2 linked regions of the Homo sapiens genome follow. Changing the gene in region 2 together with the main gene of any one other region gives a genetic interaction. Each region holds a gene or a part of one and is shown on either strand. Other genes may lie near its edges.

Region 1 (3,500 bases), on a different chromosome or scaffold from region 2:
AACACATGTGTACCACTATGTCTCTGCCTCTGATTACCATGTCTCCCTTGCCTTGTTATCTGTATCCTCCCATTCTTTCAAGATCCTCTTCGCATTCCCTCTCCCCCAAGAAACCTTCCAGATTGACATAATCTCCAGTGATCTTTCATCTTCCATGTTAATGACATACATTAACAAATACTAAACTGCTATTTAGCTTTGACTAGTACATTTTCTCACCCAAGCAATCACAAATCTTGTGGAATAGGAAAAATGTTTTCATGCCTAACATAATACTTTATAACTGTAGGCATTCATTAGTGCTTGTTAATGACAATTAAAAATTATTGTATCAAACGTGCATTTAATGAAGTGCCAAAAACATAATAGATATAAAAAAACCTTTTTTTCTTTTTTTTTTTTTTGAGATGGAGTCTAACTCTGTCACCCAGGCTGGAGTGCAGTGGCGTGATCTTGGCTCACTGCAACCTTCACCTCCCGGGTTCAAGCCTTAGCCTCTCCTGCCTTAGCCTCCCGAGTAGCTGGGACTACAGGTGTGCACCACCACACCTGGCTAATTTTTGTATTTTTAGTAGAGATGGGGTTTCACCATGTTGGCCAGGCTGGTCTTGAACTCCTGACCTCAGGTGATCCACCTGCTTCAGCCTCCTAAAGTGCTAGGATTACAGGCATGAGCCACCATGCCCGGCCTAAAAAAAAACCTTTGTTAAAGACTAAAATACATCCCAAGTAAGAATGTTACTTACTTTTACTAATATGTCTTTTACAACTTGATTGCTATCATTATGAACGCTGATATAACTGGAAAAGGTCTCTCCCAAAAATATATTCCTGTAAAATAAAATAAGTATTTAGGCAGAAATCCATTCAGGTTTTTTTTCTTTTTTTTTTTTTTTGAGACAGAGTCTCGCTCTGTCACCCAGGCTGGAGTGCAGTGGCACGATCTAGGCTCACTGCAAACTCCGCCTCCCATGTTCACCCCATTCTCCTGCCTCAGCCTCCCGAGTAGCTGAGACTACAGGCACCCACCACCACGCCTAGCTAATTTTTTGTATTTTTAGTAGAGACGGGGTTTCACCATGTTAGCCATGATGGTCTCGATCTCCTGATCTCATGATCCGCCCGCCTCAGTCTCTCAAAGTGCTGGGATTACAGGCGTGAGCCACTGTGCCCATCAGGTTTTACATTAAATAATCTGTTTGAGAATCACTAAGAACTTCAAATGGAGAAACATTTACTGAAGGATAGAAATCTGGTGAAATACTGCTTCAACATTCCTTTGTTCACACTAGGCCACTCATTCATTACCTAGTGCAATTCAAAATACAGACGTAATCTATAGAACATGATATATCTTGGCCTTTGACTACTGTACAAAATGCCAACCTCACTAGAGATAAGACTCATTGAAATTAGACCTATGCTAAAGTCTTAGGATTTGTATCTGAATAGGTTAGAGAGAGCCAAGTTTCCATTCTTGAAATAACTTATTCCCTGAATCTAGAAGAGATCTAAGTTACTGATATTGGGGTATTTTTACCAATTTATTTTATTTCCTAGGTTACTTGAATAAAAATCACCAGTGGTTTTATTTTAGTTTTATACTTTTTACATGAATATATTTCCCAGTTTTTCAAGACACTAGTCAATGACCACATTCTGTAAAACTATAAAAACAATCTGTAAAATTTCTTTTTGTCTCAAATTCTGTCTGTTGCAAACAGAGTGGAACCAGGGGCTTCTACCTTATTATTAATCTAGAATAATAATACAGCTAAGGATAACAGAAGAAATAAATTTAGAGTTCCTAATTAGCTGACAAGTCTGATAACTCATTTTGGGAGAGGACTATGATGCAAAAAAACAAAGACTGGCTTCTGAAAAAGATGTTTACATTAGTAGTTAAAAGACTATGTGGCCATTACAAAATATAGTAAGATCTAAAGAAGAAAGTTAAAATTCTATTATGCTAGGAACCACTATTAACATTTTATTTTGGTATATATCTTTTTTTTTTAATAACAGAAAGCCATAATCACATAGTATGATTTTTTAATAATATTTTTGCCCCTCAAATGTATCATGTCCTAGGCGTGGTGGCTCATGCCTGCAATCCAAGCACTTTGGGAGGCTGAGGCGGGTGGATCACCTGATGTCAGGAGTTCAAGGTCAGCCTGGCTAACATAGCAAAACACGGTCTCCAATAAAAACACAAAAATTAGCCAGAGCGGTGCGCACGCCTGTAATCCCAGCTACTCGGAAGGCTGAGGCACGAGAATTGCTTGAACCCAGGAGGTGGAGGTTGCACTGAGCTCAAATGGCACCACTGTACTCCAGCCTGGGCAATAGAGCGAGACTCCATCTCAGAAAAAAAAAAAAAAAGGTAAATGTATCATGAGCATTTCCCCATCCCATGGTTCTGTTTTGAAAACATAATTTGTAATGGCTTTACAAGGTTTCTTATGTGAATATGTCATTCTTACCCAAAATTCTGTGGTAAAGTCAGCATTTCTCCCAACATTAAAACTTCTGCACCATTAACGGTTGAAGGATCATCTCTCATCAGCTGGTTAAAGAGATCTCCTGAATGAAGAGAAAAACATAAAATTCTAACATCTACCCTTTAAATAACTTTTACTTATATAAAGAAATAGCTGGGAGAGATATTTTAAAAAACAACCTCTTGACAAAGATGATATTTAAAAAGTCTAACTTCTAGATTTTAATACAACAAAGCATGTCAAAAAAATTCTGATCTCACAGGGAATGGAAACTTTAGAAACAAAGAAAAATGTACGTCATGAGATAGAAAATATACTAGAGAAAGCCCCAATAATTCTTAAAAAAAAAAGGGAATGCTAATACATACATTGATGCAACATTTGAGGATAAAGGCAATTTTAATAGTATTATGAATATGAATGTATCTTAAACTGTCTCATACTGCCATAGGATATCAACATAATTTGGACTTGTAGAGTATAAGTAAGGCCTGTTACTCAGATGGCCACCTTTCACATGATACAAAAATAGGCAACAAAGAATCCAGCAAATGGTTAGCATAAAATTTACAGGGCTAGGCTTAGTCCAAGGTAATGCAGGCAATTCAGGTTTCAACCTTTCCCTAGGTGCAAATAGAGGAAAGCATGTGCCATACCAGGTAAGTCTTTCTCTTCACATGTTACTGGGATATTGGTGAATAAAGTAGGCTTAGTCAGCCGCATCACTGTGAAGTAAAAAAGTAAAAGAAAACAAAACATTAATACTGCTTAGGGTTAATATTCTCAAGTCTAGTGTATGACATTCATCCATTTTATACTAACATAAAATATAACCTAAATACTTCCTAAATATAATACTACATACTTCCTAAGGTTATCACACATCAGTGATTTATTAAGAATTGTAATGTTACAAAATAAGCACCATTTATTTACAACCTATGAATTATAAAAATTAAATGTAAATACAATATGCATTCATTATAGAAAAACTGGAAA
Region 2 (5,491 bases):
ACAGGGCAGGGAACATCACACACCGGGGCCTGTTGGGGGTTGAAGGGCTGGGGGAGGGATAGCATTAGGAGAAATACCCAATGTAAATGATTACTTGGTGGGTGCAGCAAACCAACATGGCACATATATACCTAGGTAACAAACCTGCTCGTTGTGCACATGTAACCTAGAACTTAAAGTATAATAAAAACAAACAAACAAACAAAAATCACTGTGCTATTTTCTCTGTCCTCCATGGTTTCTGATGAGAAATCTGCTATCATTAGAACTGTTTTTCCCCTATACGTAGGGTGCTATTTTTTGCTGCTTTCAAGATTTTTTTTTCTGTCTTTCACGTTCAGAAATTTGACCATACAGAGGTTCGTCATCATGTGGATTTGTCTGGGTTTAACCTCTTTGGGGCTGTCTTCAATCTGTAGGTTTATATACTTTTTGCCACATTTAAGAAGTTTTCAGCCATTATTTCTTTGAGTATTTTTCAGAGCCATTCCTTTTTCCTCTCCTTCTAGGACTTATGATGCATCATATAACGTCAGCTTTTGTTACAGTCCTATAAGTCCCTGAGGTAGTGTTCATTTGTTTCCTCAATTTTCTCTCTGCAGTTTAGACTAAGTAGTTACTATTGTTCTATCATCCAGTTCACTATTTCTTTCCTTTATCTCCATTCTGCTGTTGAGTCCATTCACTAAGTTTTTTTTTCTAGTGTACAAAGAGCTTTGAAAGAGTTTTAAAATTTCAATTATTGTATTTTTTTTTATTTTAAAATTCCTATTTGGTTCTTTTTTTTATCTTGCATTTCTTTTGCTCAGATTGTTTGTTTGCTAAGACTCTTCTGTTTCAAGCATGTTCCTTGTTTGTTGAGGCATTTTAATGATTGCTGCATTAAAATCTTTGTAAGATAATTCAAACACCACTGTCATTTCACTGTTGGCACCTATTATCTTTTTTTCATTCAATTTAAGATCTTCCTGGTTCTAGGTATGATGAATGATTTTCTATTGAAACATGGGTATTTTAGATACTATGTTATGAGACTCTGGGTCTTATTTAAACCACTGTTTAGTTGGCTTCCTCTCACTCCACTCCAACAAGGGAAATGGTGGTGGTAGGGTGCTACTTCATTACTGCCTGGGGATTGTGGAAGCAGAGCCACAATTTTTTCTGTGATGTTTGGCTACAGTAGAATGGTTACTTTCTAAGAGTGTTCTGGCTTGCGAACACTGTTCTGACCTGCCTATTTCCTGGTTCTCTGGCTAGAAGACTTTCTTTTTCTGTGCCTGTTGACCTTTCTAGGTTGCCTGTTTCTCTAGCACCCAGTCTCGGGTATGTGGCAAAAAGAAAACCAAGGGAAATCATCACTGTGTCATTCCTCTGGCACCAAGGTCTACTAAGGGAAGTGTGTAGTAGGTGCAGTAGTAGGCTATGCCATCTAGGCTTATGTAAGTACACTCTATGATGGTCACGTGACGATGAAATCACCTGGTGACATATTTCTCAGAATGTATCTCCTTTGTCAAGCAACACATGACTGTATAATATTTTACCTAAGAAAGAATTCTTCGGTGAAAATACCAATGCTGTAGAATTACTGTAGTCAATTTTTAGGTTCAAGGGTTAATCAGAAGAGCTCCAAGTATCATTCTTAATAAATATTTACTGACTGCTTACTACATTGAAGGCACATGCTAGCTGTTGCCCAGGACCCTGACCTCTGTTATCCTTACGGCAGTGATTCTTAACTCATTTGTTTTTTAGAACTACTTTCTGTAGTTGCTCTTATAAGCTGTTCTTATCTAGAAATCGGGAACTAAGTATTACTTTGGATAAACTACTACTTTTCTTAGCTTCATTACCTCTTTTTATAAAATAACAGTATAGTAATACATTTACCTTAGAAAGGATCAACTACGTAATCATCTATTTATAATATGTATATACATACTACCTCCAAACACAAACACATAGAGCATAAAAGAATACACTGTGTTCAGAAAAGTTCCAATAGTTCAGGTTCATCAATGGAAATAACTGAAATAATACAAATTTCATCAATAGATGAAACAGAATTCTCATGCTTTGTAAAATGTTACACAGCAATAATAGAATACTTTAAGCAGAAGTGGTGATGTGGTAATATATTGACAGTTAAAAAAATAAATAAAATTAAAAAAATAAGCAGAAGTGGATATAAATAGCTACAAACGTTCTGCTGTCTTGAAACATTTCCAAATTTCATTAGTGTGGTTCCTTGTTTCCCTCCCATGCAACACAAAAAAGATTTCCCTACCATGCAACACGAAGAAGTCCAATACCTTATATCTTTGAGTACAGTGGGTTCCCAGAGAAGCCATTTTGCTCAACATAATTTGAAAGAATAGGACTACACTATTCTCCTCCATTGGCCAGACTGACTTTCTATGAATGTGATTAAAATATAACTCTCAGAAACTATAGGAAATTGTTTAGAAAAAGGGAGGGAGTGAAAATACGTACAAAAATGTAAGAAAACATTCAGGCTTTAGAAGGCTCAATATGATTTAAGAGTCTGACAGAAGGTGAATGTTACAAGGGATTTCAAAGGGAAGAAACTTTCCTACTTTATGATGTTCAAAGACCATCCGACTAAAAACTTAAATAATAAGTAAAATGAAGATATATAAAACATTTCTATTAAGTATAAAGATGAAGATTTTAAAGGGCCTCTTATTTACCTCTTCTACATTGGAAGCAGTCTTAGCAGACGTTTCCATGAAGATGAGTCCATGTTCTCGTGCAAAAGCTTCACCTTCTTCTTTTTTTACTTCTCTTCTAGATTCTAAATCACTAAACATGGGAAAGAAAGGGTCACATTACTAATCAACATGGTACAAACAGAAGCATTTGTGGAAAGTGTACCATGGAATTCAAAGTTGTGATGACCATTCTTTTAATTAATTTTTAACATACTAACTGTATTATTCAGGGTATTATGAGGGTTAGTATTTAGAACACACTGTCTAGTTTCAAAGAACTAACAATCCAACAGAAGAAAGATTCTGTGTTAGAGCTTTAGAACGTTAGAACTAGCCGTAACTTAAGGGAGCCTCTAGTCTAATACCTTATATCTTTGAGTACAGTGCATTCCCAGAGAAGAAAGCCATTTTGCTTAACATAATTTGAAAGAGCAGGACTATACTATTCTCCTCCATTGGCCAGACTGACTGAGTTTCTATGAATGTGATTAAAATACAACTCTCAGAAACTACAGGAAATTGTTTAGAAAATCCAAAGTACTAAAGATACATTACATCATTGATCCCAGTTTGTTTAATTCCCAGTTTCCTCTTAAAGCAAAATTGATATAGACAGAGAGAGAGAGGGAGGGAGGGAGGGAGAAGGAGTAGAGAGAGACAGAAAAGGAGAAACGGAGTGAGAGAGAAAGTGTAAGCTAGAAATTTCCAATGAAAGCAGGGTATTCATTTTTATCATACTAGAATTTTATTAGTGGGGGGGAGGGGAGGTAGCAGTTGCTTTTAAAGCGTGTTTTATTTTTAAAGTTAAAAAACTTTATTATTATATTTATTACTTTTTATATATTATTTATTATTACATGTTTATACATGAAAAAAGATGTATAATATAATGTCCACATACTTCCAGCTAGCCTTGACATATTATTTGCCAGATTTCAGGTTTCTTTCCCTTTAAGAAATAAAATCAGCAACAGCAGAATCACCACCTGTGTGTCTCTGATCCCACTCTCCTCCCTCTTACCCTAAAGGTAACCACTACCTAAATTTGGTGTTTTCATTCTCATGCATGTTTTTGCATTTATCCTCATGTTTATAACCATAAATAGTATTTCTTTTTCATGTCTTTAAAAATTCAGATGTAGCTACTGTTTTACAACTTGTTAACTTTGGTCAACACTATGTTTTTCAAATTTATCCATATAATACATGCAGATCTAGTTTGTTTTTAAACTGGTGAATTACAGTCTACTGAATGAATGCAATACAACTTAAATTCTCTATAAGGCAAAGTTATTTATAATTTTTCATTATTACAAACAATGTTACAATAAGCATTATATATATATGTATTATATATATATAAAATACATATATTAAAATATATGTATTTTACATATATATATAAAATATATATATATATTTGTGTATACACGTGCCAAGGCTTTTCCAGGGCAGTTTTTTTTTTTTAATTTTTTCAGAGACAAAGTCTCACTATGTTGCTCACGCTGGTCTTGAACTCCAGGACTCAAGTGATCCTCCCACTTTGGCCTTCCCAATTGCTAGGACTACAGGACTGAGACACTGCGTTAAGCCTGGGTAGGATTTTTCAAACTGTGTCATGACTCAATGAATTGTAAAAATCACTCAGTAGGAAATAATCAGAATTTTTTTTTAAAAAAAGAAACAATAGGCCGGGTGCGGTGGCTCACACCTGTAATTACGGCACTTTGGGAGGCAAGGCGGGTGGATCACCTCAGGTTAGGAGTTCAAGACCAGCCTGGCCAACATGGTGAAACCCCGTCTCTACAAAAATACAAAAATTAGCTGGGTATGATGGTGGGTGCCTGTAATCCCAGCTACTCAGGAGACTGAGGCGGGAGAATTGCTTGAACCTGGGAGGCGGAGGTTGCAGTGAGCAGAGATCGCGCCACTGCACTCCAGCCTGGGCGACAGAGTGAGACTCCATCTTGGGAAGGGAAAAAAAAAAGAAACAATATAAAATATCAGAGTCTATCACCTATATACATAAGTTCCATCTACTGTTTCATGGAACTTACGTATAAAGGTATAATTTACGAATATTTTGTTATATGTGTAGGTGTATACACAATTTATTTACTAGGTCATGATGTAAAATACATTTCTTACTATAGGTCAAATCAAAAAACTCAAAAGCCATAGTACTTGACGATATACTTAGTGCAAAGTTTTAAAAATACCTCAGTTTTCCAGGCATTACATCATATTGTTGTCTTAGTTCACTCCCTCTGAATCCCACTTAAGTTGCTTAGGTTACTTAAGTATCTTTCTTTTAATTTATGGCCCCTTTTTGTTTAGGGTTTGCATTACAACCCTTACACTATTAAAAAACTTTCATTTTTTAAATCTCTGCTTCCTATTTCTTATATAACCAATTTATTAATAAAATGCCATAGTAAGAAAAATTTGTGTCATCTGTTGCTCTGACTAGGTCACTGCCCTTCACTGGCTCCCTACTGCTTAATGCGTCTAATTCAAAAATTGCTTATTCCCTGTTTTGATGTCTATCCACAGTTCAATTCATCTAAAAATAATCATCTCATTTATTTCTCTCTGTTCTTTCTTGTTCGTTATACTCCTGATTTTAAAGGTCACCCACCTACGATCATCAGAAACATCTCGTTTACATACTATGCTTTGTTTATTTCTTCTCACATTTGAACTATCAGCTCCTAGTGGTCGGTGACCAAATTTAAGCCACCAGTAAGCTGTCACTCATC

The links.
Region 1: changes in RAB2A (region 2) and TRAPPC13 together harm fitness more than expected from each alone (negative genetic interaction), as found in Homo sapiens cells (one large-scale study listed by BioGRID).

What each region holds. Positions count from the first base shown.
Region 1 is NC_000005.10:65,635,027-65,638,526, reverse strand, and holds part of TRAPPC13 (trafficking protein particle complex subunit 13), read right to left. Parts: intron 3,227-3,500; coding exon 3,158-3,226; intron 2,584-3,157; coding exon 2,484-2,583; intron 832-2,483; coding exon 747-831; intron 1-746.
Region 2 is NC_000008.11:60,589,190-60,594,680, reverse strand, and holds part of RAB2A (ras-related protein Rab-2A), read right to left. Parts: intron 2,824-5,491; coding exon 2,712-2,823; intron 1-2,711.